Linked DNA regions of Homo sapiens. The protein of the gene in region 1 purifies or fractionates together with the protein of each later gene. This does not show direct contact. Each region holds a gene or a part of one and is shown in the gene's direction. Other genes may lie near its edges. The genes, in order: ANKRD28 and ARHGEF2.

Region 1 (16,109 bases):
AATATCTTCAGCTTTATCAACCCTTTATGAAATGGTTTCTAGATTATGCATTATACTGGCTGCCCTTCTTGAAGGTATTCTAGTTTCATTGCTCTAGTGGTAGTCTGCCCAGTGTCTAGTAATTAGCCTTGCTTTTCATAGAGAAGGAAGATGAGATTAATAGGAAACATTTTGGAGATAAAACTCTCATTTTAACAGGTCAAAATTAAGGTGTATTTTACTATTTCATCCTAAAGTATTCTGTTTTCTTATGTTTGACATTTTTCTTGTATGTCCATGGCATTTATAAAATGATTTCCTTGCAATTACCCTCTTCCTTCTTGCATGCTTACCCCCAATTTTGTTTGTATGTCCACGTCTATCCCACATCGCTTGGGGAAATCCCGAATATTACAAGCTAATCAGGGTAATCCTATTCTGCCTAGTAGTGATTCATTTGGGAAGGGACATGTGATCAAAGCCTGGCCCTTTGCATTTCAGGGAAAGTCAGCTTGTGGGGCTTCTAGGAGTCTTCCTCATACCTGAAAAGGGAGACACGGAAGGATATTTCCACTTCTACTGCATGACAATATGTGTTTAATAGGATCCCATGAAGTATAACAATTAACATGTGGCTATGAAGGGAGTTATCCTAAGGTTCTTGCTGAGTCTGACAGAGGGAAAAGCTGAAAGGAGCGTAGGTCATATATGATGGCATTGGATAACTGAATCAGTCACCCTAAAGCCACCTTATTTTAATTCTTGATGTTTGTGATGATAATCCCTTTGTTTAAGCCAGTTGAGAGTAACATCTTATTTTATAAATTATTTTTGGCTTAGGATAGGCCTAATATTAACAAATGTGTTTAATATTCTATTACATAGAAAGTAGACACTGGTGGAAGGCCCATTAAGATGTCATGATGGGCCGGACATGGTGGCTCATGCCTGTAATCCTAACACTTTGGGAGTCCGAGGTGGGCGAATCACCTGAGGTCAGGAGTTCAAGAGCAGCCTGGCCAAAATGGTAAAACGCTGTCTTTACTAAAAATACAAAAATTAGCTGGGCGTGGTGGCATGCGCCTGTAATCCCAGCTACTCGGGAGGCTGAGGCAGGAGAATCACTTGAACCCAGGAGGTGGAGGTTGCAGTGAGCTGGGATTGTGCCACTGCACTCCAGCCTGGGTGACAGAGTGAGACTCTGTCTCAAAAAAAAAAAAAGATGTGATGATGGCAGCAGTGTTGGTATAGTGGTGAGCATAGCTGCCTTCTAAGAGGTAATGATGAGCGTCTAATTTTAAGATCAGCTATATGGGGTTGAAAGTTTTATAAGTAGTCTTACAAAACTGAATGTTCTAAATGTAAAACACAGACACACAAAAAATTTCTACAATACAGTAACTGATAGCGGATTTAACAACCTAGTTAGGAATGGGCTAATTATCAATTCTTATAGGGGCCTCTTCTTCCCATTTAAGAAGTTCAAAATTGTCTACAGCTAAAGGAGTTGACATCGTTTTACTCTGAATTAACATTGTTACAAGCATGGCTTTTTAAAAGTTTATCGAAGGCGTGAAAATTTATGTATAAAAGAAACTCCACACCTGAGACACATTACAAACATACCTTCCTTCTTTCAACAATAGAAGGTGCTATGTAAAATTACAGCACTCTTTGATAAAAGGAACTAAAACTCTCTGAGTCATTACTTGAATTTAAAAATAGCTATGGTCAGTATTTTTGTCTCCAATATGGTTCAGAAAGACATGAATCATTTTTTTTTTAGTATTTCCCAAACGATAGCCACTTTGAAACGGAAGTGATGTATGCAGTTGGGTTCAGTTTGTTTGTGAAATAACGAATGTACACTTCAGATACTGATCTTACTGTACTTTCGGGAATTCCTTGGACATCTCACATAATTATTGCTTATAAAGGTAAACATTTTGTAACCATAGCAACTTATTTTAAAACTGAAAATTTTCTCCCTTCAGCTTTTAAAGTGCATTAACTTCATACTACATTTACTCTGGCATCACCACATTGTAAAAACCAGAATGAATTGCACATAATCTTTCCTCAATCTTTTTTTAAGAAGGGCAAAATTCAGCCTGTTTAAAATAAAAATTTTGCACTCAACTGATTTTAATATGAGGGCTAAATTGTCTTTGATACAGTTGCTGAACAATAATTAACTTTGCAAATAATAATGTAGATTTCAGAGAATGTGTTTATCCTTGGCCTGATAGAACATAAGTCATATGTCAGAGATACTACTCATCACATATCTTAGCTAAAAATTTTACTAATCAGATTGACTAGGATATTTTAAAAAGTATCACAACTTTAAAAAAAAGACCTCTAAAATGATGAGTCCTTTTCCTTAATTTCAAACTGCTTCTCAAGGTAATCAAAATTATGAAGAAAATAACCTAACTTTTAAAGACATTACTTAAATGCAGTACTACATACTTGCTAACAGAGTAGTTTTTCTCCCTTTGTTCCTTAGTTTTGGCATATTAGGTGTATTCTAGAAAACTAACCTGTGTTAGTTTGGCCTGTTGAATTTTTTACTTATATTCTTTTGGAAGGAAGTAATTCTCTTAAGGCTGAAATCTAAAAATAGTCATCTAAATATTGATTTAAACCTTAAGTTCATATGTGTAACTGTTGAATCTACACTTACTTGGAAAAGTCAGTGAAACTCTGTTTTCGTAAGTACCTGCTACGTAAGTACATGTGTGTTGGGAGGAGGAAAGAGCGCAAAGTCAGCATTCTTCTAGTCCCCCATTATAGTGTTAAAATGTTACTAGTCTGCCTGTCTATAAAAACCTTCCTTCCTTTGAGGCACATACCATTTGGCTAGGTGATCCTTCTATTTCTTGTTGCTATCATCTGTCACATCTCATACCCCAGTTCCACATCTGGATCATGTTTGTCTGTCATCTAGGTGATTTCATTTCTTTGTAGATGACATTTTGAACATACTTAACTATTTAACAACCTCCACACCAGCAGTCATCTGTACTTGGCTGTAACCACCTCCACTTGGCTGTAACCACCTCAATGACCACATCCTACAACTTGTCTCATTTGCTGTAATTACCTTTGCTTCTGTATGTTTGTTCTTATCTATCCTGGACACCGTGAGCCATTGCTTTTAACTGCTCAACAGTCACTTATACTCACTTTTAACAATTATATATTATAAATGATAGTTTTGAATCTTCAACCATTTTCTGAAAAATGTGATAGAGTTTTTACATGGAATGTTCTAACTAGCAGACCATTGATTTCTTTGACAAAGCACCCTTCCTATAAATTAAAGGAGGAGCAAAATAATGAGGTTTATGGAGAGTTTTATTAAAATATCCATTTTTTTAGAGAATGGACAGTTAGAAGGTATCTGTATATGTCAGTTACAATTAATAACTTCATATGCTACACTCTTTCCTATGATGGACTTGGTAGCAGGTATAGTCTATATCTCGGCCTTCAGTATATACTGTCTTTTACTGTCTTTTATCTTGTACTGGTTAGATTTTTACGTGTATGACATAATGCCCTATTTAAGTTGCATAAGGAGTTTGAAGGTGATATATGATACCTTATAATTCCTTGGCATGGTATGTATAGTAGAGATATGAATGTCTAATAATTGTTTAATCAGTGCTGTGGTATTTTTGTTGAGTGTTTTAAAAAGTAAGGTATTCTTGCCAAAAGACTTTTAGATAATTTCAGTGTACTGGATTGAGTAGAATTGAGCCAGATCTCACCATTCTTTATGAATTTTTTTAATATTCACCTAGATGTAGGCAACTTTGGGATTTAACATTTCATTTAGAAGTCATGAGGGTAGATGCTAAGATAATGGGCTCTGTATTAAGTTTAAAACAGAGTTTGAGAGCATGAAATGCACCTTAGATATTGATGTAACAAGTAACATTCTTCATTGTATAAATTTGGAAACTAAAAAAGTCCCAAATTTCTTAAACTCCAATAAGCACTGGTTGCTTAAGTCAAAAACCTGGGAGGTTTCTGATTATCATCTTCTCCATCACTCTTGTAGCCAGTCTATTAACATGTCCTATAAATCCTATTTCTAAAATATATTTCTTTTTTTTTTTTTTTTTAAATGGAGTCTCGCTCTGTCGCCAGGCTGGAGTGCCGTGGTGTGATCTCAGCTCATTACAGCCTCCACCTCCCAGGTTCAAGCGATTCTCCTGCCTCAGCCTCTTGAGTAGCTGGGATTACAGGCACGCGCCACCACACCCAGCTAATTTTTGTATTTTTAATAGAGACGGGGTTTCACCATGTTGGTCAGGCTGGTCTCAAACTCCTGACCTCATGATCCGCCCACGTTGGTCTCCCAAAGTGCTGGGATTACAGGTGTGAGCCACCGTGCACGGCCTCTAAAATATATTTCTGTCTCTCCACCTATATGATCATGTCCTAATTCAGATCACCCACTCTGTTGGATTACTGCAGTGGTCTCCTAACTAGTCCTTTGACTTCCATTCTTCTACCCCTTTAATCCGTTCTTCGTATCAAAGCCACATAATGTTTTTAAAGCAAAAGCAAATCATGACTTCCTTAATTAAAAATTTTTAATGAGTTCTCAATTGATGAAAAATACAAACTTTATAACTTGGTTTACAAGGCCTCTCTATCACATGACCATACCCACTTCTCCAACTGCATGTGATATTGTCCCTCATGATTGCTTCCCCAGCCACATGGGCCACCCATTAGTTCCTTGTCTTTCAGACATTTTTTTTTATTCGAGAATTTATCACAGTTGCAGTCATATAGTATTTATTTGTGTGTATGGTTCATTAGAACAAGGATTGACTATTCATAATTTTGTTTTCTCAGCTTGGCAGAAAGACTGGCACATAGTAGATGAATGTATACTAGGTGAATGGATGGGGCAGATAAGTGATTGGCTGACTAGATGTTACTGAGCCTGTTTCTCATTTAGAGATTTGATAACAGTACCCACCAAAATGGTGGCTGAAGATGATTGAGAATATTTGTGGTAACTGTTTCCATCTCTTTCTCTCTCCTCTGATTGTCCTTAGCTTATCCAGGAAAATATGAATTATTTTCCAGCAGATTTCTGATTATTGTTTCTAGTACAATATGTTACAGCTCAAGTTTCTAACTCATTTTATTTATTGAAGATTTAAGTAGCCACATTGTACTGGAGTATGGATGTTGGAAGAACAGGGCTCGAAGGATATATGTCCACTCATAGATAATTAAAGGAAGAGTAAGATTATCATTTAGAGTTAGGCTCAGCTCCAAGTACCAGAGATGCAAAATTACAGTTTCTTAAACAAGGCAGGACTTTTTATTTCTCTCTAACATAAAAGTCAGAAAGTAGACAGTCCAAGGCTTGTATGGCAGTTCTGTTTGGCAAAGTCCTCAAAGACCCAGCTCCCTTCTAGTGTAGTTTCACTACCCTAGACTATGGTCCTTGTTTGGTTTAAGATAGTGGCCAATCATCTTTGTTCCAGGAAGCAAGCTGAATATGCTAGTTGGTCTTTAAGAAAGTTTTCTGAAAGGCACACAACACCTACTTAAAATTTTGGTCAAACTTTTTCATGTGGCTCCTAGCTACAAGAGAGCTGAGAAATGTAGTCTTTATTGTGTGAGGCTCTGTACTTACCTAAAGCTGAAATGGAAGCCTGGAGGAATGGACACAAAATACAGATCTCTGCAGAAAACACATGTAATATTAGAATGTGCTAACAATCTGCAGTATACAGTACTATTAATATTGGAAGGGTTAACAATTTATTATTACGAATGTAACGTACCAGTGGGATCACACCACTTGAGATCGTCAAACGATATTGGTTAATGGCCATTTTGGCATTATGACTGCATAAAAAATAAGTGTCCTGGATCATAAATATATTACCTGCAGAGAGTTAAGTCTGATCTATTATGAGGATTTTGAGTTGTGTTTTGAATACCTAGTGACTTTCTTGCAGTGGCTCTAATAATCACATAGATAATTGCATGGATTCTGGCCTGTGTAGCCTAGAAAGCAGCTATTCCTTGATTTCTCCCCACTCACCCTCTACCTCATTTTCTTTTAACTCTGTTCATAAGACTTTTTTTTCCTAAAGTATATGGATAGATGAGGCGTAGCTCAAGAAGATTGGTGAGGATTCTTGATCTGTCAGAAATGTTTTCTATAACATTGTTTGAACCCACTTCCTTACCATCTTTCACCACAAGCTTTTTATTTTCAAATACTCAGAGACCAGCTTGTTACTTGCCACAGAGTAGCCACTTAATATACCCTGAGTATTCTATTCTATGATAATACGGAGTTCACAGATGTGTAAGACAAAAGGTGAGGTTTAGGTTGGATCTTGTTGCAGAAAGGAAAAATCGTTTGTGTCAAAAAAAGAAATTCAGGTGTAACAATTAGGAACCCAAAAATTATCTTCCAGTGACTTAATGTTTTTATAATCAGTAAAAAGGTTTAAGCCAGCTTTACCATTATGTGATTCCATTAATAGTAGGAGTAAGCTCTTAATAGGATACATTTTAGTATAAAGAATAGAAGGATTATAAAGCTGTCAGAGTTGAACTTGTTAGCTTATTAAAAACTTAATCTAATATGGCCTAAAAAATAAGTACCAAAGAAAATAACCACATCCCCTTGATATTTCTCTAAGTGGAAAAAAATGTTGAACTTACAGTTTGCACAATCTTTATCAGCAGTTTTTTATCAGAAGTACTTTCTCTGTTTCTAAGTTCTTAAATATTCACTTGTCTCCTTTTAAGATGTGAGTTCCTTGAGGGTAGGAGCCTGTCTTATTCAATAGAAGAAGACACAAAACAGTGCTGCTAATTTAAATAATTTAAAAACTGACATATTTCTCTTAGTATTTTTTATCTGCTTTTGATTTTATAATATACCATGGGCTAGTACTTTCTATCCTTTTTCCCAAAGGAATTTTACAGTCCCTAAACTGTAAAATCTAGTGAAGGTAGAAGAATGGAAGAACCTGTAGTCTTTCTTGCCTAAGTTTACTGCTCCCTCTCCCCAATTAACACTTAGTATGTGCTTGTCTAGTTACTAGAGTCTAAAATGAGCTTTTAGCAGACTCTCAAGAGATCACTGAAAAGTGTGGGGACTTGGCAACTGAATGGGATCTCCAGACATTAATCTGAATTACCTCACTTGTACTGGGTCAAGAGGAGGAGGAGTTTAATAGCCTTTGATCCACTCACTGGCTTCACAAGGGATATCATTCAGCTATCCCAAATATCCATAACAGTAAGGTTATCTTGTTTAGATTTCACAACACTATGAAGTAAATTCTGTTAATGTCATTTAATAGATGTTAAAATGAGCACAGAGAGGTTACTAAATAAGTGAGTAGCCCAGGATCCCAGAATTAGGTTAGTGGGAAGCCTGGATTAGAACTTCAGGCAATTTGACCACAAAATAGCCTACATTCTCAAGCACTGTACTGTTACTCTATTTCTCTTAGACAAAAATCTTTGCAGGTTATTTTTTTCTTATATAAGTGTCAAGAAATTTAGGCTTAGGGAATTTAAGTGGTTTGTCCAAGGACACAGCTAGGAAATGATGGAAGCAGAATTGAACTTCAGGTGGGCTGACTCCTGAGCCCTTAGTTTTAACCATCACCCCATACCTTTGTTTTATATCCTGTCAACTTCTGAAATTTTAATTGTTCACTTATTAGAGATATGAAACTCACTTTGTTGCACCTTAATGCCACCTATATTTTCTGGTTAAAATATATGTATACCAACACACCCCCACTATTCTTGTTTATAAATCTCCACCCTTCCAGAGTCTCGTGACGACAGAATTCATTTCAATGAAATTATTTATAGGTGGAAGAAAGTGGAAGGAGACAATATGTATGAACACAGTCCCTACCTTCAAGGAGTTTGTTTTCTGGTTGGGAAAGACCTAAGTGTGGAGGTTGACTTAGAACAAGAAACAGGATGTACCTGCTTAAGTCTAAGTAGGTGAACTTAGGTACTAGATACTTTGGAACAAGTTAAGATTGTTAAGATAAAAAGAGATTTTGCTTTGTGGGCTTGGGAACCCTGAAGATGAAATATAGGATATTGTTACTATAGTTGTTTCACTTTCAGATATTTCAAATATTAAGATTTTTTGATTCAGCTATGTGGAGATGGATAACATAATTGATGTATGTTCAATATTTACATACCTTTAATTTGGCATAAAAGTATTTTATATATTTTAAAATATAACTAATGAATTGTTAGCATGTTTTAATTGGTACAAATATGTTAGAGTTATTGCTTCTTCCATAGATTGATACATTTTATAGCTTTCAATGGTTCTTGTTTTAAATTCTGACATTCTTATATTTGTATCATGCTGGGATTTTTTGTTTTTTTTTTCCTTTTTATGGTTTTAAGACTTGCTTTGAAGTACCCATTTAAAAATAACTCGTTTTAGAATATAGCAATAAATAGTATATTCCTTTGTTACCTAAACTTTTCACAACCTTTATAGGTTACCTGTTTGTTAAGATCACTTTTATAAGCTAGTATTACAGGTTGCAAAGATCTGGAGATGAGTGGAGAGAAGAGAGTGTGTCTGTATGTGTGTGTACTCAGTGATAGCAGAATAGATTAGAAAGAGTATGTGTTTAAAATAACACACAACTTTATTAATTTATACAACTTTGGGTAAAATACATCATTTCTGAGTCTGTTTTTCCCTCTATAATGGGAATACAGCAAGGTTATTGTATTAAATGAGAATGTACAGCACATAGCATATCACAGATGTTCAAAAGTAACTATTATGTTTATTATTGTTTATTAATAAAAATGCTAGTTAATATGAAGAACACAGATTGAAGGGGGACCATGGTATTTTCTTTGTAAGTTTTCTCTTGAGAAATATCCCCCATGTTGGGTAAACAGAGAAAGAAGAAAAAAAACGATGAAATGATTGGCTTTGACATTTATTTATGGCTTTGGGAAATTTATAGGGAGGGAGATTATTTGTATTACCCTGTGCCCTTTTGACATAGGTAATTCAGGACGAAGGACATTTTTTTTTTCATGTACCTCTTTAACAGATTTTTAAGGCTTTATTCCCTATCCAAATGGGAAGGTAGGATTATTTTATTTCTTCAGTGAAAAATCAAATGATTTATATAATTTTAGAGTTAGGATTTCTACATTATGAAATTTTTGCTTTTCCCTTTAAAATATGAATCAATGATTGATTAAATTCACCAATTTAGAAATTGTTAGACAATCTTAAATTTCATTTGTTTAAGCTTTGCATTCTAGAAAATAAAATACACCTGGCAGATTAAAACTGATCTTGGTAAAAATATGAATAAAACAATTTCATGGTTTTTATAATCTAATAAAATATTTCTCCATCTTTAAACCTTTTTTATGAGTCCATTGCAGGCATATTCTTACTGCAACTGTCATTATAGGGTTAAACATTTGCTTTATTGTAACACACGAAAGCAGTTAAGCCGTTTGGAATTGTTTACTTGCTAAAACCACTGTTAGTCAGCAGAGGCAGTACACCAGATTTCCTTGTGGCTTTTAGTGGAAAATGTTAAAAGCGCACTCATTTTTCAGTTATAGAATTTTTTAGTTTGATTTGGATTAGTCACAGAACTGGCATGAACCTTCTAATTGTGAAGGCTGTCCAAATGCACTATTTTTTTCTCCTGCTAGAGGAAGTTACATCCCGAGAAGTAGCTCAGATCTCTGGTAAGTGTAACATGTGAGCATTACTAGGCATTTCATCCTGTGGGTCTGCAGTCTTTGCTCTTCAGACTGTTGCTCCGTTGGAATGCTTCTGTGGGACTGATACTGAGGTTCTATAGATATTTTTTAAGGACCTACTCATTTGGGGATGTCAGTGGTGTTTTGCAAGATCATCTGAGGAACAGGAAAGCATTTGAAATCTGAAAAGGATAACTGTGGCGGTTTTCACAGTGGAAGGAAACTATATTGGCAAAGAGGCAGATGACTGAATAAAGTAGTTGGCTCAAAGAAGATGCACAGTCTGCTATTTTTTTCTCTGAATGAAGACTGTTTAATGGAAGCTGTATTCATGTGGAGATCAAAGGAAACACTGGAATGATACACTACTATGTTTTTCCCCCCCCTTTTTTTTTTTAAAGAAAACAAAAAGCCTGAAGCAGTAATTTGAGCTCAAATGCCTTCTAATTCCTTCACAGCCTGCTTGTTCTACTAGGATTCTCCACTAACACCATTTCTGCCTGGTGCCTGTGCCCTTTTGCTGGAGCAGCCACAGACAACTGCCTGATGGAGAAAGAATGAACGCTCTGCCTTGCTTATGCTATCGATGGGAATAAAGCTAACTGTGTTTCTTCTATTATATGGGAAACCTGGATTAATCAAGCTGTATTCTAGTACCAAGAGTCGTATTGTCTCTTGTGGTCTGACTCATCACATGTAAACGTACTGCAGCTTTGCTATTAATGCAGAGTGGTTTTTTTTTTTTTGTTTTTGTTTTTTGCCCCTTTCCCAAACACTGAAAGAATTGTTAACCTCTGAGCTTCATTTTCAGGATTTGTGCTGAGCTCTAGATCTTTTTTCTGTGAATAGTATCTGCATTAAACCAGTGATGAAGAAATGAAGACAAATTAGAAGTGGAAACAGAATAGTGAGATTTTATTTTTTATTTTCAATTATAAGCAAAACAGCTACTGGTAACTATATGACCTTGCAGGCAAGAGTGGGTATCGCTGTGATCATCTCTGTCACAGCAGTTGTTTCTCATTTCATTCTATATTGTGTGGTGTTGTGTCACCAAAAACAATGATTGTTTTGTGCAAGTAAATTTCAGAGATAGAGCAATAAGACTATTTTGGTAGAGGAAAAATATTTTTAAATGAGCTTGGACTCAGTTTTAGTTATTGACATGTTGGTGTGAAATTTCTTCTTAAGTATTGCAGTAATCCAACAGAAATAATAGAATTTCGTTATATTTAGGAAGTTACAAATTATGTAGTCATAATTTTAAACTTGTTTTTCCAGTAGTACTTATTAACTTTAAAAAAAAAAAAAACCCAGCTGTGCTGTTCAGAGAATGTTTGTAAGTGTTGTACAGAAGAGGAGGAAAAACTACTTGTGCTCTTCCAACTGTGACTTTTATCACATAGCTTGGAATTTAGTGTTTTAAAAGATCGAATGAGTCGAGTGTGTATTGTTGTTTTGGAGGAGGTAGAAGATGAATCTCCTGCATTCATTTCTAAATTGCCACAGGAAAATAAATCCCTACATTCTCCACCTTCTGGAAATGTATTGGTAAGATATGTAAGTTTATATGTTTACTATATTCTACTGAACTAGTAGTATAAATCTTGTTTTTTAAGAATAGATGTAAATTTCCAATAGTTTCTTTACAAACCCAAATTAAAGCAATACGTGTGTAGATATGATGCAGTATTTTTGTATAAAATGCACATTTTTCGTTTTTACTTTTTTGAATGCTGAGATAACATTTCAGTCTTTACTATGTCTTAATCTCTTTAAAAGACTGTTTAAAAATAATTTGAGAATTAGTAGTTATGGCAACCACGTTTCTGTTTTCATTTTGTGGTTTCAGAAACTGATGTAACAAGAATCAGGAACTCTGCATATTTTAGGAAAGGTTGACTACCCCCAGCAACACTAAGGCATGGCCTTTTCTGTAATGAATTTTATGTATTTACATATAAGACTTTATATGAGATTCAGTCTTCATCTTTAACCTTGGTTTTAGTGCTACTGTCAGCTGGCTCCTTGACTAGTATAGTATACCTTATCAAGAGGCTGTATCGTTGATTAAGAAATTATTATATTTAGTTATGCATGTGTTTGTCTTTTCAAGTTATTTAAGTATCCAGTATTTTTTGGTCTTTGATTAGTGGCTATTTTCATCAACTGCCAGGTTTGCTTTCTTGGGATTTGTATCTTTATACATGTAATGCTAATCCATGTAAGATAATTTGATGCCCCAAACAGACCTTTTCAAAAAAGCCTTCCTTCATGGGCTGGAAATTGCTTAAAAAGTTCTGTCCCACAAGTAGATGTTGAGATCACACATTTGTATTTGGAAGAGTCTTTCTTTTTGTCATATACAGAAACAAAAGGCTTCTACTTACAAGAAATAAAATCTGATTTTGTTTATTATACTACCTAAATTGGGTCAAACTGAATTGATTTTTTTTTTTAATTAGGCCTTTTTTTTCCAAGTAGGAATCCTGTACTTTGACATGATTTGGTTTTATGAAACTTCTGGCTAATGTCAAAAGTGATTATTGCTACAGGGAAGAAAACTTGTAGATTCCAGAACTATGTAAAATATCCTTAGTCACCCCACATGGATGATTCTAATGTTTTTATTACTCTCTTCTATTTTAGCCATCACTGGTGCAAGCTATATTTAACGGAGATCCTGATGAAGTTCGAGCACTAATATTTAAGAAAGAAGATGTTAACTTTCAGGTAAAACAGTTAATTCACTGATGCCAGCCTTTAAAACTGCTTTTTAAAATTCTTTCCTAGAATTGTGATTTTTGTTTACAAGACATAATATAACTCTGTAACAGTTGTTTTAAATGAGGGCAGGAAGGTATTGAGGCAAAAGGGAAAACACTGGACATATACTCAGGGCAGTAGCAGCCAGTAGGGGTCTTTTGTTCTCCCAGCTTTTTACTTTGAAATTTTTCAAACATAGGGAAGTTAAAAAAACATGCTGACTACCCATATACCTTTCACTTACTTTTGGCATTGATAACATTTTGCCACATTTGCTTTCTGTATTTATTAATATACAACTTTTACATATATATGTAGTAAGTTGCAGAAATCATGATACTTCACCATTAAATACTTAACTGTGCATTTCAAATGAGGATTCTTGTAAGTGTATATCTAAATATAAGATCAGATTTGCTTTTTGTAAATAATCATGGTGAGTGTTTTACAATGGTGCTTGATTAATTTTTGTCAGATTAGGTTTTCAGTAAAGTCATTGTTGGAAAAGTTTTCAGACTTAACGATACAGTAGTATATTCAGTGCTGACATGATGGACAGTTTTAGAAAGGTGGATATATGGATAATTTTCTCTCTCTGTTATGTTTTTTCAGTGGCCAGTATTTAGTTTACTAAGTTGTGGCTGAAAGTACATTACGTACTCTAACAAAATTACATCCACTAATGTATATATTTTTACCAGAAACAAATGTACCCCTGAGTTATGGAGGGGGTGAAAAGTCATATGATTCACAAAGTCGCTGTGGCAACACCAAAACAGATGACCTAGAAATGATTGTGGTTTTAAGAAAGCACCCATTGCAAGCTCATTTTTAACTCTCATCTTTCCTCCTTTTTTTTTTAATATAATACTGCTGTGACCACTTAATGTTAGGTAGATACAAAAAAGTTTTACCTTATTTTTAAAATAATGAATTATCTGAATAGATTTGAATCATTGGCTAAAACTGTTGTTAATTTTAACATTGGGTAATGAACAGAATGCTATCATTATATATTTTTTAAAATTTTTTCTAAGTGAATTGCCTTCAAGTTTATATTTAGTTGGAAACATGCACCTAATTCAGGATTTATGTATGTATGTATGTATGTATTTATTTAGAGACAGAGTCTGGCTCTGTTGCCCAGGCTGGAGTGTAGTGGCATGATCTCCGCTCACTGCAACCTCTGCCTCCCGGGTTCAAGCGATTCTCCTGCCTCAACCTCCCAAGTAGCTGGGATTACAGGCACCTGCCACCACGCCCGATTAATTTTTGTGTTTTTAGTAGAGACAGGGTTTCATTCACCATGTTGGCCAGGCTGGTCTCAAACTCCTGATCTCAGGTGATCGGCCCGCCTTGGCCTCCCAAAGTGCTGGGATTACAGGCGTGAGGCACTGTGCCGGGCCATGATTTATTTGTTTTAAATGAAGTGTCTGGCTACTTTACCCAGGGTATACTGAAGAGTATGCGTTTCTTAGAAAATAGCTCAAGGGGTATAGACGCATGAAAAGGTGGAAAACATGTTTTCCATTTAACTCCTAAGGTTTTCTTGTTATTTTGGTTTTATTTTAATAGTACTGACAAATACTACCTTGATTAGAAAGTTTGAACTATAATTCCATTTACCAGGGCTAATTTCTCCATCATTACAAAGTTTATTGTAGCTGACATTACTTTTATGTTATATTTAATCAATTTATCCTAAATTAAAAAAAAATTCAGAGTCATTGAGAGCATCAGCTCACTCATCAGTAGGCCTTTCTTGAGAGTAACTCTTTGACAATTGTCTTCAGTGATACAAAGGTTTTTGACAACAACTTTTATGATTGCTTTTAGGCCTTTTCTCTCGTGACCCTTTCTTAGTAGTTGAGAGTGTTGCCTTAAAGTCAAGATTTGTTAACTTTTTGGCCATTATTTGAATTTAAGATGGTAAATATCATCTGATTTTGTCTGATAAGGAATCATATGGGGTTTTAAAAGGCAATGGGTGTTAAATGCACTGACTTTTAATAGGTAATAAAATATTTTTAAGCTTTATGTCAGTGTGACAGTCGTGTTTTTCCAAAGTAAATTTATTTAAATAAGTATTTGGAGAATAACGTTGGACTTTTTGAAACTCAGGTTTCTCTTAAGTTTTTTGAAGTTGTTTTTATTCATTTTTAGAATGGATATAAGTTCAGATTTATTTCTCTACCATTAAATAGTCATTGTATAATTTTAGATGAGTTTCTTTAGTCACACCCTGAGGTTTTGAATATTGTAGACCACTAAACAGCACGTTTCTTAGTAACACACCTAATAGATTTTTCTTCTTATTTTAGTGGGTTTTAAAAAAAATTTGTGGGTACATAATAGGTGTCTATATTTATGGGGTACATGGGATGTTTTGGTACAGGCATGTAATGTGAAATAATCATATCATGAAGAATTAGGTATTCATCCCCTCAAGCATTTATCCTTTGAGTTACAAACATTCCAATTACATTATTTAAGTTATTTTAAAATATACAATTAAGTTATTATTGACTATAGTCACCCTATTGTGCTATCAAATAGTAGGTCTTATTCTATTTTTTTGTACCCATTAACCATCCCCACCTCCCACTCAACCCCCCATTACCCTTCCCAGCCTCTGGTAACCATCCTTCTGTTATGTCCATGAATTCAGTTGATTTGATGTTCAGATCCCACAAGTAAGTGAGAACATGTGATGTTTGTTTTTCTGTGCCTGCCTTATTTCGGTTAACATAATGATCTCCAATTCTATCCCTGTTGTTGCAAATGACTGGGTCTGTTTTTTTATGGCTGACGAGTACTCCATTGTGTGTATGTACCACATTTTCATTATCCATTCATCTGTTGATGGACACTTAGGTTGCCTCCAAATGTTAGCTATTGTAAACAGTGCTGCAACAAACATAGGAGTGCAGATCTCTTCGATACACTGATTTCCTTTATTTTGGATATATACCCAGCAGTGGAATTGCTCGATCATATGGTAGCTCTATTTTTAGTTTTTTGGGGGACCTCCAAACTGTTCTCCGTAGTGGTTGTACATTCCCACCAATGGTGAACAAGGGTTCCCTTTTCTTTACATCCTCACCAGCATTTGTTACTGCCTGACTTTTGGATAAAAGGCATTTTAACTGGGACAAGATGATATCTCATTGAGTTTTGGATATCTGATGATTAGTGATGTTGAGAACCTTTTCACCATTTGTGTGTCTTCTTTTGAGGAATGTCTATTCAGATCTTTTGCCCATTTTTTATCAGATTATTAGGTTTTTTCCTGTAGAGTTGTTTGAGCTCCTTATATTCTGGTTATTAGTCCCCTGTCAGAGGGGTAGTTTGCAAATGTTTTCTCTCGTTCTGTGGGTTGTCTCTTCACTTTGTTGATTACTTCCTTTGCTGTGCAGAAGCTTTTTAACTTGATGTGATCCCATTTGTCCATGTTTGCTTTGGTTGCCTGTGCTTGTGGGCTATTGCTCAAGAAATATTTGCTCAGACTAATGTCCTGGAGATTTTCCCCAGTGTTTTCTTGTATTAGATTCAGTTTGAAGTATTTAATGCAT
Region 2 (16,000 bases), on another chromosome or scaffold:
AATCCCAGCACTTAGGGAGGCCGAGGCGGGCGGATCACGAGGTCAGGAGATTGAGACCATCCTGGCTAACACAGTGAAACCCTGTCTCTACTGAAAATACAAAAAATTCGCCGGGCGTGGTGGTGGGCGCCTATAGTCCCAGCTACTCAGGAGGCTGAGGCAGGAGAATGGCGTGAACCCAGGAGGCGGAGCTTGCAGTGAGCCCAGATTGCACCACTGCACTCTAGCCTGGGTGACACAGCAAGACTCCATCTCAAAAAAAAAAAAAAAAAAGAATCAACCTCCCTTTATGCAGCCCATACAACAGTGAGACTCAGTGGGAGAGAAAAATAGGATCTCTGTGGCAGAAAAGCCTGAATTCTGCAGTTAACTTTATGGACCATACAGGGCCTTCCCTATCAGTATTTTATAATTTCTTTGGTCCTTGCATGCCTAGAGAGCTACTAGTTTTACTGAGGAAGACAAAGAAGCTCTCAGACTGGAGGACAGGATCAGTTGATTCCCCCAGCTGGAATCCCAGCTACCAGGGATGGGAGTAAGCAAGAGCTTTGGGGAGCGCAGCCAGAGGAGGCCCAGAGGAGGGGACTGAGCCGGTGAAGGACAGGCAGGGAGGAGAAGAGACAGCAGGGCAGAGGGAGCAGATCAGGGGCCAGGGCACACTTTCCCAGGCTCTCTTTCCAGAATTTGTCTGCACTGGCAAAGTCTTTCTCACCTAAATCAAAGCAAGAGAATAGCAGGCCTTGGCTTTGGGGATGAGATGTGAGGGACAATAGGAAACTGTGATACCTGAGGCCAAAGCCTGCCTGAGCCTCTGTACCTGTGTCATGAAATCCCTGCTCCCTGGGTTTGGATATTGTCAGTCTTCACCAGCCTCTTTCCTTTATCCCTTTCTCTCCTTCCCATCTCTCCCACGCAGCAGCTAAGAATATAAACCATGGGGGATTAAAAATAGCAAGGCTGGAGAGTGTTATTTCTGAAGCATTTAGCAAAAGCCCTCCCCTTCTGTGTGCCCACAGTTTAGTAAAATCCCCAAGGGCAAAGGAGGAGTGTATGTTTTCTCTCTCTTTTTTTTTTTTTTTAGAAACAGGGTCTCGCTTTGCTGCTCAGGCTGGGGTGCAGTGGTGCAGTCATAGCTCACTGTAACTCAAACTCCTGGGCTCAAGTGATCCTTCTGCCTTAGACTCCTGAGTAACTGGGACTACAGACCTGCACCACCACACCCAGCACATTTTTAAATTTTTTGTAGAGATAAGATCTTGCTATGTTGCCTAGGCTAGTCTTGCTCAGACTCCTGGCCTCAAGTGATTCTCCTGCCTCAGCCTCCCAAAGTGCTGGGATTGTAAATGTGAGCCACTATGCCTCGCCCTCTGTTTTCTTGATTGTGACATCCAAGTTTTATGGAATTGATCTTTGTTTCCTCCCTCAGTCTTGGAGTGCTGACCCCATAGGATCTGAGAGCTTGGAGTGTGAAGCAGAGAAAGAAATTGAAGCAGGGGCCTGCTGGGGTTGAAGGAGATGGGTGGGTGAGGGATGGTCTTTCAGTCCTCTGCGAGAGGAAGGAAACTTTCTCCCTCCCTACCAAGCTCAAAATTAGAAGTGGGAATATGCCAGGACAGGGAGAATTTAGGTCAGATAGCCGTAAAGGTCTTCCTTAGTTAGATATTAGAAATGGAATTTAAAGGCTAAAAAATGTGGTCCAGGCTGGGCACGGTGGCTCATCCCTATAATCTCAGCACTTTGGGAGGCTGAATCAGGCAGGCAGATCGCCTGAGGTCCGGAATTCGAGACCAGCCTGGCCAAGATGGTGAAACCCCATCTCTACTAAAAATACAAAAATTAGCCAGGCATGGCAGCATTCACCTGTAGCCACAGCTACTTGGGAGGCTGAGGCATGAGAATCGCTTGAACTCAGGAGGCAGAGGTCACAGTGAGCAGAGATCACACCACTGCCCTCCAGCCAGGGCGACAGAGCGATACTTGGTCCCAAAAAATAAAAAATAGGCCAGGCGCAGTGGCTGATGCCTGTAATCCCAGCACTTCGGCAGGCCAAGGCAGGCAGATTACTTGAGGTCAGGAGTTAGAGACCAGCCTGGCCAACGTGGTGAAACCCCGTCTCTACAAAAATGCAAAAAATTAGCCAGGTGTTGTGGCGTGCTCCTTAATCCCAGCTGCTCAGGAGGCTGAGGCAGGAGAATCGCTTTTTCCTGGGAGACAGAAGTTGCAGTGAGCCAAGATGGCACCACTGCACTCCAGCCTAGGCGACAGAGTGAGACTCCGTCTCAAAAAAATAATAATAGAATCAAATTAAATTAAAAATAAATAAAAAATAAAAGTATGGTCCCTCTTGCTCTGGGGAACCTTATGAATCTCACAAAAATCTTGGACCCTGTCACCCAAAAAAATACACGAGTTATGTTAATATGTAAAACTATTTACACACCTTCAGAAGGTTTACAGAGCCACTGAAGCCTGACATCCCAGGGGGTCTGTAGGCCCTAGGTTAAGAAACCTGAATCAGTCAGGTAGAAAGGGTTTTCTGTAGACACTGAGTGATCCCTGTGGTTCCTGCTAGCCCACAACGCTGTTTTGTCTGATAGCACATGAATCTTTCTGCACCCTGCCCGCCCCCCACCCCCCACCCACACTGTTTTTAAGCTGTAAGAATGTGTGACCAGGCGCGGTGGCTCATATCTGTAATCCCAGCACTTTGGGAGGCCGAAACTGGTGGATAAACCTGAGGTCAGGAGTTTGAGACCAGCCTGACCAACATGGTGAAACCCCGTCTCTACTAAAAATACAAAATTAGCCGGGCATGGTGGCACACGCCTGTAGTAGTCCCAGCTCCTTGGGAGGCTGAGGTAGGAGAATCGCTTGAACCCGGGAGGCGGAGGTTGCAGTGAGCCAAGATTGCACCATTGCACTCCAGCCTGAACAACAAGATGAAAACTCTGTATCAAAAAAAAAAAAAAAAAATAGAATGGGTGAGGTGTGAGAGGTCTGAAAAAGTGCAAGCAGCCAGAGGGAAGAGAGGCCAGGAAGAGGGAAACTGGGAGCTCTAACCTGATGGGATAAGCCTGGTCCTTGGGAAAGAGGGAAGCAGCTGCTCAGACCGTCTAGTGCTGACTGTTCTCCCACCTTCATCCCCTTCCAGATGTGCTAGTGCTGCTGATGACAGATGTACTGGTGTTTCTCCAGGAAAAGGACCAGAAGTACATCTTTCCTACCCTGGTGAGACATTCATTCTTCACCTTTCTCAGCACAGACAAGTGTTTTAGTCTCTTCTTGCTTTCCTGCCCAAGCCCACGAGAGCTCTGGAGTCCCCCAGAGTCAAACAGCTATAATTGTTACTATTACCGTAATAATAAAAAATAAGAGCAGCTCACAGGTACTGTTACTGTGCACAGGCACTTTTACACCTGTGGGAAAAGATTATTTTCGTCCTCATTTTATAGATGATGAAAGTAAAGCTTCAAGTCAGTTAAATAATTTGTCAAGGGTTGCACACATTTCTAAGTCCCTTCTGGCTGGCACCAGTGCCTGGCTCTTAACTGGTATTGTAAGATGACTCTTCAGTCCTTTCAGTCCTCGTCCAGAAGGATTGAAGGCCTAAATATGCCAAGGGACAGGATTCCCAGGCTTAATCCTTCCTTTCCCCTGACTGGCAGGACAAGCCTTCAGTGGTATCGCTGCAGAATCTAATCGTACGAGACATTGCCAACCAGGAGAAAGGGATGTTTCTGATCAGCGCAGCCCCACCTGAGATGTACGAGGTGCACACAGCATCCCGGGATGACCGGAGCACCTGGATCCGGGTCATTCAGCAGAGCGTGCGCACGTGAGTGTCTGCCTGCCGCCTGCATGTGCTTATGACCTCAGGGTACCTGCAGCATTAGATCCCAACCATAGAACTCCCTGGGAACAGAATCCAGCATTCAGAGGTGGGGGAAGAGGTTGAGGGAGAGACAAAATGGCCCAAGACTGGAAAGGTCACCTATGTTCTTATGTCCTGTAAAGCCACATTTTATACATTGCCAACCTCAACTCCCTTTCAAATTCAGCATGAGCTGACAAGCAAGGGAATACTTTGAGCTGTCACATGGTGGCATACCTGCCAGCCAACAGTACAATTTCAGCTGCATTCACATGTTCATCTGTAGGCAGAGGGCTGTTATTTGGATTGTATTGTATTTTACATTTATTTTTCTAAAAATGAATGAAAAAGAGGATAATGAAAGCATCGATACTAGAGAGGAACAAGTCTCATAAACAGACTCAACACAATAGAAGCAAGAAGGAAATCAGTGTGTCAAAGCAGCAAATCTTTAGCTTCTATTGGACACACATTAGATTTGAGGCAGTCAACTATGTGTCTAATTGTGATGGGAAAAAACATCAAATAAAGCACAGGTAAGATGTTTAAAATGGATTCTGGAAGATTATGCCTAAAGAATGAAGTGTAAGTGTAATTCTAATTCAGATTTTTACAGGTTTTCTTTCTTTTTTTTTTTTAATTTTTTTTGAGACAGAGTCTCGCTCTCAGCTCACTGCAACCTCCACCTCCTGGATTCAAGCGATTCTCCTGCCTCAGCCTCCCAAATAGCTGGGACTACAGGTGCCCACCACGACCCCAGGCAAATTTTTTTTTTTTTTTTTTTTTTTTGGAGACAGAGTCTCTGTTGCCGGGCTGCCTCAGCCTCCTGAGTAGCTGGGACTACAGGCTCACGCCACCATGCCCAGCTAATTTTTGTATTTTTAGTAGAGACGGGGTTTTACCATGTTGGCCAGGATGGTCTTGATATCTTGACCTCGTAATCGACCCGCCTCAGCCTCCCAAAGTCCTGGGATTACAGGCATGAGCCACTGCACCCAGCCAAATTTTTGTATTTTTAGTGGAGACGGGGTTTTGCCATGTTGACCAAGCTGGTCTCGAACTCCTGATCTCAGATTTATCCGCCCACCTCAGCCTCCAAAAGAGCTGAGATTACAGGCATTAGCCACCATGCCCAGCCAAGATTTTTATAATTTTTCTTTAGCTTTCAGGGAATCAGTTCTCAACTTTATAATTTGTAAACCTTTTTTTTTTTTTAACTTCTGCACCATGGAATTTTGAAAAGGTTTTTAGAAATGCATATAAAAGTATGAAATTGCAGGCCAGGCACAGTGGCTCACGCCTGTAATCCCGGCACTTTGAGAGGCTGAGGCGGGTAGATCACTTGAGGTCAGGAGTTCAAGACCAGCCCGGCCAATATGGTGAAACCTCGTCTCTACTAAAAATACAAAAATTAGCCGGGCGTGGTGGCATAAGCTTGTAATCCCAGTTACGCGGGAAGCTGAGGCAGGAGAATCGCTTGAACCCGGGGGTGGAGGTTGCAGTGAGTCAGGATTGTGCCACTGCACTCCAGCCTAGGTGACAGAGTGAGACTCCATCTCCAAAAAAAAATTATGAAATTGCCTATTCCAAGAAAGCAGTTCAAAATAACCTGTCCTGTTGACAGATCTGTAGTGGCTTCTTTATTAATAGTATTAATATTTATAATTGTGGCCAGGCGCTGTGGCTCACACCTGGAATCCCAGCACTTTGGGAGGCTGAGACAGGCGGACCACTGGAGTTCGAGACCAGCCTGGCCAACATGGCGAAACCCTGTCTCTACTAAAAATATAAAACTTAGCCAGGCATGGTGGTGCGTGCCTGTAGTCCCAGCTGCTTGGGAGACTGAGGCAGGAGAATCACCTGAACCTGGGAGGCAGAGGTTGCAGTGAGCCAAGATCCTGTCACTGGACTCCAGCCTGGGCGAAAGTGCAAGACTCTCTCTCAAAAAAAAAATTATAATTGTGGAAATTAATAATATTAATTGTAATTGATTTGTTGAGCTTCTGTTATGTTCAAAGCACTTTAACATTTCATTTAATCCTAATGAAAAACCTATGAGGAAGATATTACCTTCATTTTTCAAATGAGGAAATAGAGAGGTTACCACCTGGTAAACAGTGGAGCCAGGATTTGCATCCTGTTTGCTTGATGCCAAAGCCTGTACTTGACCCTCTGCACTGTGCTGCCTTTCCAAGCGACCTTTGGAGAGATATATCTCAGTAAACGCAGATAATCAGTGCTAAGAAATGGGAGAAGGTCGGCCGGGCGCGGTGGCTCATGCCTGTAATCCCAGCACTTTGGGAGGCGGAGGATCACCTGAGGTCAGGAGTTTGAGACCAGCCTGGCCAACGTGACGAAACCCCATGTCTACTAAAAATACAAAAATTAGCCAGGCATGGTGGTGCGTGCCTGTAATCCTAGCTACTCAGGAGGCTGAGACAAGTGAATCACTTGAACCCAGGAGGAGGTTGTAGTGAGCTGAGATAGCGCCCTTGCACTCCAGCCTGGGTGACAGAGTAAGACTCCGTCTCAAAAAAAAAAGAAAGAAAAGGGAGAAGGTCAGGACTAAATTAAAGCTAGGGTGTGAGGCTGAGGAGTCTTATCAGAAGATGGAAGCATAAGGCATGTTTGGGAAGGAGGGAAGGCTGATTCTGGTCTATAACCTAGCTTCTGTCTCTCAATGGCATGCGACCTGTTACCCCTCCAGATGCCCATCCAGGGAGGACTTCCCCCTGATTGAGACAGAGGATGAGGCTTACCTGCGGCGAATTAAGAGTAAGTCCACCCACAAGGAGCTCCTTAGTAATTTATAATACATTCACACAATGGAATATTATGCAACTGTTAAAAAGATGAGATGGCTCTATGAGGGCTGGTGTAGATCCACAACTGAAACATATTAAGTGAAAAAAGCAAGGTTTAAAACAATGTAAAGTGTATACTACCATGTGTGTAAAAATAATATGGAAGACCAAGGTTGGGTGAGTAACTTACTTTTTCACTGTAAGGCCTTATATTAGTTAGGGTATGATTTAACTGCTATACTAAAAGACCACAAAAATCTTCTTCCTTAAAAAAGGAAGTAGATTGGCCGGGCGCGGTGGCTCACGCCTGTAATCCCAGCACTTTGGGAGGCCGAGGTGGGCGGATCACGAGGTCAGGAGATTGAGACCATCCTGGCTAACACGGTGAAACCCCGTCTCTACTAAAAAATACAAAAAAAAAATTAGTCGGGGGTGGTGGCGGGTGCCTGTAGTCCCAGCTACTCAGGAGAGTGAGGTAGGAGAATGGCATGAACCTGGGAGGCGGAGCTTGCAGTGAGCTGAGATCACGCCACTGCACTCCAGCCTGGGCAACAGAGGGAGACTCCATCTCAAAAAAAAAAAAAAAAAAAGAAGTAGATTGGCTGGATGCAGTGGCTCACGCCTTTAATCCCAGAAGGATTTGGGAGACAGGAGGATCTCTTGAGGTCAGGAGTTCGAGACCAGTCTGGGCAACAAAACATACATAGCAAGACCCTGTCTCTACAAAAAATTAAAAAAAAAAAAATAGCTAGGCATGATGGTACACACCTGTAGTCCTGGCTACTCGGGAGGCTGAGGTGGGCGGATTGTTTGAGCCCAGGAGTTCAAGGCTGTAATACACTATAATTGCACCACTGCACTCCAGTCTGGGTAACAACAACAACAAAAAAAACCCCAACAAGGTAGAATATTATTGCTGTCAACATAACAGTTCAAAGTGGGAAGTGCAGAGTAGTGGTGCAGCTCTGCCATCTTTAACATGAAGTTTTCATCTCTATGTCATGTCTGAAGTGGCTACTCCAGCTCCCACTGTCACACCTGTATCACACCTAGCAAGGAGGAGTAAAGGAATAGAGTTTATACCCTTTTTTCTTTTTCTTTCTTTCTTTTTTTTTTTTTTTTTTTTGAGACAGGGTCTTGCTCTGTCGCCCAGGGTGGAGTGCAGTGGCGTGGCGTGATCTCGACTCACTGCAACCTCCATCTCCCACGTTCAAGTGATTCTCCTGCCTCAGCCTCCCAAGGAGCTGGGATTACAGGCATCCACCACCACTCCTGGCTAATTTTTGTATTTTTAGTAGAGATAGGGTTTCACCATGTTGGCCAGGCTGGTCTCGAACTCCTGGCCTCAAGTGATCCACCTGCCATGCCCAGCCTATACCCATTTCTTTTAAGAGCAGATCTGGAAGATGCTCATATCCATTGGCCAGAATGTAGTCATGTAGCAATATAGTCACGTGCAAGTCAGGCTGGAAAACATAGTTGTTAACTGGGCAGCCATGTGTGCCCAGATGAAACTTCTATGCATTTTCTCATTAAAGGAAGATGGAAAGAATGAACACTGTTGGACAACCTGCAACCCCTTCCACAAATCTTTTTTTTTTTTTTTTGAGACAGAGTCTTGCTGTGTCGCCCAGGCTGGAGTGCAGTGGTGTGATCTCGGCCTCACTGCAACCTCTGCCTCCTGGGTTCAAGCGATTCTTGTGCCTCAGCCTCCTGAGTAGCTGGGACTACAGGCGCGTGCCACCACACCTGGCTAATTTTTGTATTTTAAGTAGAGACAGGGTTTTGCCATGTTAGCCAGGCTGGTCTTGAACTCCTGGCCTCAAGCGATCCACCTGCCTTGGCCTCCCAAAGTGCTGGGATTACAGGTGTGAGCCACTACACCTGACCAACAGAAAGCTTTTTCTTTTTTATAAATGCCAAAATAACAAAATTAAGTCTGCCACACTGCCCCACCCTACCCCTCTCCCCTAGGGCTGTCCTCTACTGGCGCTCTTGCATACCCCTACGTCCTCTCATGTCCTCACTTGTTCCTTATCTGCAGTGGAGTTGCAGCAGAAGGACCGGGCACTGGTGGAGCTGCTGCGAGAGAAGGTCGGGCTGTTTGCTGAGATGACCCATTTCCAGGCCGAAGAGGATGGTGGCAGTGGGATGGCCCTGCCCACCCTGCCCAGGGGCCTTTTCCGCTCTGAGTCCCTTGAGTCCCCTCGTGGCGAGCGGCTGCTGCAGGATGCCATCCGTGAGGGTGAGGGAGCTCCCAGGGAAGAGTCCAGGCTCAAGCACTCACCGTCACAGAATGTGGACATGTGACTAGACATGGACAAACACAGACAAGTGGGATGCCAACCCTATAAACCATAAACGGCCCTGAGTGCCTCTTCTGGGCCAGTTCCTGGGAAAGGCAGGGGAGGAGGTGTGGTCCTTGCTGCTGCTCCATATCGTCCATGCTGCATGGACTCTGCTGCCTCGTAGGCATTTACTGCCCTTTACCTCATCAGTGGTTGTGTGAGTGAAACCCCACTGCCAGTGCAGGGGGCATTCCCCCAGATGCCCAAGTGTCCCACATGTGGGGGTGAATGGCATTCCCCTCAGGGTCCTGTGTCATTCCTGTTCTCACCTCTTCCTCTTTCCCCACAGTGGAGGGTCTGAAAGACCTGCTGGTGGGGCCAGGAGTGGAACTGCTCTTGACACCCCGAGAGCCAGCCCTGCCCTTGGAACCAGACAGCGGTGGTAACACGAGTCCTGGGGTCACTGCCAGTGAGTACCAGGGCAGGGGACCAAGGTAGTAGGTGGGAGGGGCCAAAGTTAGTAGAGTGGTACCAGGGATCAAGTGGTATCAGGGCCCCAGGGAAGTGAGCTCAGCCATCCTTTTCTCCTTCTCAACAGATGGTGAGGCCAGAACCTTCAATGGCTCCATTGAACTCTGCAGAGCTGACTCAGACTCTAGCCAGAGGGTAGGTCCTCAAGAGGTTCTGGGACTTGGCAAGAGGGTGGGAGAGGGACAGCCAGCCTCTGGATCCTCAACACAAAGCTGTCAGGGGCAGGCACCCAGGATTTGTGTGCCTGCTGACTCCCCATTCTTGCCCATTTCTGCAGGATCGAAATGGAAATCAGCTGAGATCACCGCAAGAGGTGAGATGGGAATTGATGGTATAGGAGACTGAAGGGAGGATGTTCTTAGTCTGAGTAGTTAGAGCCCAGTTTGGAGTGGGGTGGGGAAAGCGTCTACATTCAAGTATGTCTCCGGATCCTACTGTCCCCACACCCACCCTTGTTCAACTTTTGGGCAGTTCTCCCATCCTAAAGCTGGGGCCCTGTTCCCACCCTGTCTGTCCTCAGGAGGCGTTACAGCGATTGGTCAATCTCTATGGACTTCTACATGGCCTACAGGTCAGTAGGACAAGGGCTTGAATGGGGAAGGGGAGGAGCCAGGCTAGAGATGCCTGTTTAGGTGGGGCATGGTCATCCCAACAGGCCTTTCTAAATACCCTCCCAATCCAAGCTCTCCAGGAGCGATGATCTGGGCCTTGGAGGGTGAAGGCGAGGGGTAGAAGAGCACAGGGGTTCTGATAAACCCTTCTGCCTGCATTCTACTCCCAGGCAGCTGTGGCCCAGCAGGACACTCTGATGGAAGCCCGGTTCCCTGAGGGCCCTGAGCGGCGGGAGAAGCTGTGCCGAGCCAACTCTCGGGATGGGGAGGCTGGCAGGGCTGGGGCTGCCCCTGTGGCCCCTGAAAAGCAGGCCACGGAACTGGCATTACTGCAGCGGCAACATGCGCTGCTGCAGGAGGAGCTACGGCGCTGCCGGCGGCTAGGTGAAGAACGGGCAACCGAAGCTGGCAGCCTGGAGGCCCGGCTCCGGGAGAGTGAGCAGGCCCGGGCACTGCTGGAGCGTGAGGCCGAAGAGGCTCGAAGGCAGCTGGCCGCCCTGGGCCAGACCGAGCCACTCCCAGCTGAGGCCCCCTGGGCCCGCAGACCTGTGGATCCTCGGCGGCGCAGCCTCCCCGCAGGCGATGCCCTGTACTTGAGTTTCAACCCCCCACAGGTAAGGTGGCCTGCAGTGGTGAATGGACCTGGGGTGGACATAAGGGTCCATGGAGCCCGAAAGAAATTGGGCCATTGGGGATTTGAGCCCAAATGCAATCAGTCAACTGACTTGAAGGATATTGAGATACTGGTTGGAGAACTGAAAAGAAATGTAGATGGGTGCAGGGGTGGAGGAAATTAACTCGGGTCGTGGTGCTGAAAGAGGCCAGTTGGTGGTGGATCTCCTGAAGGGGACTCATGGGTGAGCCCCAGGGGGGAGAGCTGCTGCCTTCAGCCAAGCAGAACCTCCAATCTTCACACTACTCAGTCCCTGACCTGCTGTTCTTCCTGCCCACTGTCCACAGCCCAGCCGAGGCACTGACCGCCTGGATCTACCTGTCACTACTCGCTCTGTCCATCGAAACTTTGAGGACCGAGAGAGGCAGGAACTGGGGAGCCCCGAAGAGCGGCTGCAAGACAGCAGTGACCCTGACACTGGCAGCGAGGAGGAAGGTAGCAGCCGTCTGTCTCCGCCCCACAGTCCACGAGGTGAGACCCTGGCGGAGACATGGACCAGAGGTAGAGTGCAGCCTGGGTACAGGCCATTGGGCTGTGGCTTCCAAATGGGCCCTAACTGACCTGTGAGGCTTGTAGTAACTCTAGGGAGGGACTTCCTGTTTTGTCTGATGATGAATGGGTGGTGGAAGTCTAGGAAGCAGGAGGGGCCTCTCTCCTCCAACTGGTTGGTGATTCCCAACCTTTAGAAGTAAAAACAGATTCTTTTTTAAAAAGGCATGGCGGCTCAGGCCTGTAATCCTAACACTTTGGGAGGCCAAGGCAGGAGGATCGCTTGAGCTCAGAATTTTGAGGCCAGCCTGGGCAACATAGTGAGACCCACCTTCTCTACAAAAAAAAATTCATTTATTTATTTTTTTATTTTATTTAATTAATTTATTTCATTATTATTTTTTGAGATGGAGTCTTGCACTGTTGCCTGGGCTGGAGTGCAGTGGCGTGATCTTGGCTCACTGCAACCTCTGCCTTCCAGGTTCAAGCGATTCTCCTGCCTCAGCCTCCCAAGTAGCTAGGATTACAGGCGCCCACCGCCACGCCCAGCTAATTTTTGTATTTTTAGTAGAAATGGGGTTTCACTATGTTGGCCAGGTTGGTCTTGAACGGCTGACCTCGCGATCCACCTGTCTTGGCCTCCCAGAGTGTCGGGATTACAGGCATGAGCCACCACGCCTGGCTAAATTTTTTTTTTTTTTGAGATGGAATTCTCACTCTGTCGCCAGGCTGGAGTACAGTAGTGAGATCTCCGCTTACTGCAACCTCCGCCTCCCAGGTCCAAGTGATTCTCCTGCCTCAGACTCCCGAGTAGCTGGGACTACAGGCACATGCCTCCACGCCCAGCTAATTTTTGTATTTTTAGAAGAGATAGGGTTTCACCATGTTGCCCAGTCTGGTCTCAATCTCTTGACCTCATGATCCGCCTGCCTTGGCCTCCCAAAGTGCTGGGATTACAGATGTGAGCCACTGCACCCGGTCTATTTTATTTTATTTTATTTTATTTTATTTTATTTATTTATTTATTTAAGATGGAGTCTCACTCTGTCACCCAGGCTGGAGTGCAGTGGCACAATCTCAGCTCACTGCAACCTCCACCTCCTGAGTTCAAGTGATTCTCCTGCCTCAGCCTCTCGAGTAGCTGGGATTTACAGGCATGCACTACCACACCTGGCTAATTTTTTTTGTATTTTTTAGTAGAGATGGGGTTTCACCATGTTGGCCAGGCTGGTCTCGAACTCCTGGCCTCAGGTGATTCACCCACATTGGCCTCCCAAAGTGCTGGGATTACAGGTGTGAGCCACCGTGCCTGGTCCCCCAAAATTTTTTTAATTAGCCAGGTGTGGTGGAGTGAGCCTGTAGTCCTAGCTACGGAGAGTGAGAGTGAGGTGAGAGGATCACTTGAGCCCAGCAGGTTGAGTTGACAGTACTCCGTGATTGCTCCAGCCTGGGCGACAGAAAGAGACCCGGAGACCCAGACAGAGGATCTCACTCTAAAATTTTTTATGTTAGAGAGAGGGTCTTGTGCTGTTGCCGAGGCTGGACTCAAACTCCTGGGCTTAAGTGATCCTCCCAAGTAGCTGGGGCTACAGGTACATACCACTGTGCCTGGGAAGGTATAGTTTTTTGTTTTGTTTTGTTTTGTTTTTTTTGAGACAGTTTTGCTCTGTCACCCAGGCTGGAGTGTAGTGGCACAATCTCAGCTCACTGCAACTTCCACCTCCCAAGTTCAAGCAATTCTTGTTCCTCAGCCTCCCGAGTAGCTGGGATTACAGGCGCATGCCACCACATATAGCTAATTTTTGGCATTTTTAGTAGAGATGGGGTTTCACCATGTTGGCCAGGCTGGTCTCCAACTCCTGGCCTTAAGTGATTCTCCCACCTTAGCCTCCCAAAGTGTTAGGATTATAAGCACGAGCCATGGGGCCAGTTTTTAAAGTAAAAAAAGTTTCAAAGAACTTCAAGTTTTTACAGTTGGTTCATGAAATAAAAAATTACCAAAAGCTTTAACCTTAAAGTATTTTGTATTTTCCTAATCAAATTGTATCTTTGGATACTGTAAAAGTGTATCCGGTACCTAGGTATGGATACCTTGCTTACTTTGTTGCCAAAGGTTTTCCTCTCACCCAAGAATTTACAGAACCCTGTCATCCCTTCACAGCCCCAGAGCCCCCTGAGCCTGCAGATGGGGAGGCATTAGTCTAGGGGTACAGTTCCTCATGGGAGTCTCTGCTAACTCACTGGCTTTGTCCTGTCCCCCTTCAGACTTTACCAGAATGCAGGACATCCCGGAGGAGACGGAGAGCCGCGACGGGGAGGCTGTAGCCTCCGAGAGCTAAGGGGGCCCCTCCCCCCTGCCCCGTGCCCCACTGAAGAACATTACTGAGGGGGCTAACCTTGGGGACTCCAATTTGCCAATGATGAGGGAACATTTGAAAGAACTGCAAATTGTCCTTGCCAGCTCTTGGGATCCTTGGATACCTGGGGCCATTTAAGAAGCTAGGGGAATTAGGCCACAACACCCCCTGGGACATCCGAAAGCTACACCACAGATGCCAGTGGTTCATGCCTTCTTCCCGCAACTTTAGGAAAATTTATTTATTTATTGTTTATTAGTTATGGGGGGAGAGGGGAGATTTAAAGGACCAGGGACATGGGAACCAAGCCATAGGGATCAGAGGGCCTTGTCCTTGAACACTACTGGGGTATATTCAGGCTCATCCACGCAGCTGCTGGGTTCTTGCCCTAACGGCCCTCCCCTGCAACATCCGTCTTGGAGGAGAGGCTGCAGCCACAGCACCCTACTGCCCTTTAAATAAAGGAGGGCTGTGGGCAGGGCCATGTCCCTTTCTCCTCTCCCCTCAACCTCTTACTGCTGTTCTCCCTTTCTCCGTCCTTCATGGAAGCCCTGGGAGATAACCTGGCTTCCTGGAGTTGATGGAATAAAGGTTGGGGTGGCCATAATGGTTTGTTGGGGGTGAGGGAAAAAACCCACAGGGACCAGAATGTTTTGTTGTTCTTTTGTTTTCTTTTTTGTACCAAAGTCAACTGCACGTGTTTTATATTTTTAAGAGATCGTAGGCAATTAGAGATCGAAGCCTCCTATCTCCACATCTCTGAAGAAGTTGAGGGGTGGGGGAGAGAATGACTTCTGCCTTCATCTGCAGTAACGGGGGGACCTATACTGACCTCTTCCCCAGCCATTTAGAAACAAGTTCTAGGGTGGGTTGGAAAATCTCCAAGAGCCCTGACCTCATCTTCCACCTCAGCAACCATGACCTGAAACCTCAGCGTGAATTTGGGGGATTTTTCAGTGGAACCCTTGCCCCCAAATGTCGACCAGCCCCCAAATGTCGAAGAATTTTCTTCTTGCCAATTTTGTTGTTTAAAAAAAAAATTCAGGGAAAATTAAAAACCTGGAACTCCATAAGGTACTGTCTTCCATAATGTCTGCCAATTCTGAGGAGGATGGTAGTAGAGAGCCGGGCAGTGACCTAAGTTCCTCTGAAAGGGGCCTTTTCCTCTCACCGCAAGGACAGCCTCTGCCTCACTGAAGAGAGGGGGCACTAACAAAAGTAACCACTGCAAATCTTTTTTTTGTTTTTTTAATTCACAAATACAAGGATAAAAACAAAGGGGCACACAGGTTCCAATGTTGGGAATTCCGGTATCAGGAAAAGTGTGTTCATCGTATTTGTATGCCATGCTCAGCAATCACCTCCACCTATTGCCCCCATCCCCAGTGTCATTCATTGTCAGATCCATCCCCCACTAGGCCCTTGTTGATCTCCATGATGTCGGGCCCTGGGGTTACCCGTCACAGGAGCTGCTCATTTACTGTCCCTCTTTGAGAGGCAGTGAGAGATGAGCTGGTTTCAGTTCTTGGTTTTAGTTGGTTTTACTTCCTGTTCCCAGTTGGTACTTACTTTGGGGCTGTGGGGGAGGGGAGGAGGTGAGAGTCTAGGGTTGTATAAATGCTGGTATGAATTCACATCCCTGTTGGAGCCTGTGGGGTCAGATCAGGAGAAGGGGGCTCAGGCCCTCAGCTAGAAAGAGGAATTGAAGTCACATGGGGAGCAGGCTGGGGGAGCAGCCAGCACCCTCCCCTTCTGTAACTCTCATCCACCAGCATCAAGCCTTTACAAGGTGCTTTCTCAGCCATTACGGGGATCCTGAGAATGGGGAATTGTTCTCATTTTATGGGCCGGGAAACCTAGGTGCACGAAGCTTGCCAGGCCAGGAGGGGGCCGGCCTTCTTAGTTCCAGTCCACCACTTTTCTCTCTTGGCTACTCTGCCTAAAAATACCAGGGCTGGCTGGGTGCAGTGGCTCACGCCTATAATCCCAGCACTTTGGGAAGCTGAGTTGGGTGGATCACTTGAGGCCAGGAGTTCGAGACCAGCCTGGCCAACATGGTGAAACCCCATCTCTACTAAAAATACAAAAATTAGCCGGGCGTGATGGCGGGCACCTGTATTCCCAGCTACCTGGGAGGCTGAGGTGGGAGAATTGCTTGAACCCGGGAGGCAGAGGTTGCAGTGAGCCGAGATTGTGCCACTGCACTCCAGCACTCCAGCCTGGGTGACAGAGCAAGACCCTGCCTGGAGAAAAGAAAAAAAAAAAAACACCAGGGCTTCACATTTCACACACAGGGACACAGGGCTCAGCAGCTGTCTTCCAGGTCAGCTGGAAGTATCTCCGACCCAGAGCTGTGAGGGTGGCACCTTTAGGTGG

Evidence for each region.
Region 2: the proteins of ANKRD28 (region 1) and ARHGEF2 purify together in Homo sapiens (affinity purification with mass spectrometry; 3 studies listed by BioGRID and IntAct, with this or other methods). This does not show direct contact.

Annotation. Positions count from the first base shown.
Region 1 is NC_000003.12:15,791,618-15,807,726, reverse strand, and holds the start of ANKRD28 (serine/threonine-protein phosphatase 6 regulatory ankyrin repeat subunit A), read left to right. Parts: upstream 1-9,747; 5' UTR 9,748-11,205; coding exon 11,206-11,322; coding exon of another isoform or gene 11,323-11,331; intron 11,332-12,420; coding exon 12,421-12,504; intron 12,505-16,109. UniProt on the Homo sapiens protein: Regulatory subunit of protein phosphatase 6 (PP6) that may be involved in the recognition of phosphoprotein substrates. Involved in the PP6-mediated dephosphorylation of NFKBIE opposing its degradation in response to TNF-alpha.
Region 2 is NC_000001.11:155,945,548-155,961,547, reverse strand, and holds the end of ARHGEF2 (rho guanine nucleotide exchange factor 2), read left to right. Parts: intron 1-3,151; coding exon 3,152-3,228; intron 3,229-3,665; coding exon 3,666-3,835; intron 3,836-6,578; coding exon 6,579-6,646; intron 6,647-8,719; coding exon 8,720-8,920; intron 8,921-9,312; coding exon 9,313-9,432; intron 9,433-9,561; coding exon 9,562-9,629; intron 9,630-9,771; coding exon 9,772-9,807; intron 9,808-10,014; coding exon 10,015-10,065; intron 10,066-10,211; exon of another isoform or gene 10,212-10,275; coding exon 10,276-10,719; intron 10,720-11,065; coding exon 11,066-11,249; coding exon of another isoform or gene 11,250-11,279; intron 11,280-13,532; coding exon 13,533-13,606; 3' UTR 13,607-14,694; downstream 14,695-16,000. UniProt on the Homo sapiens protein: Activates Rho-GTPases by promoting the exchange of GDP for GTP.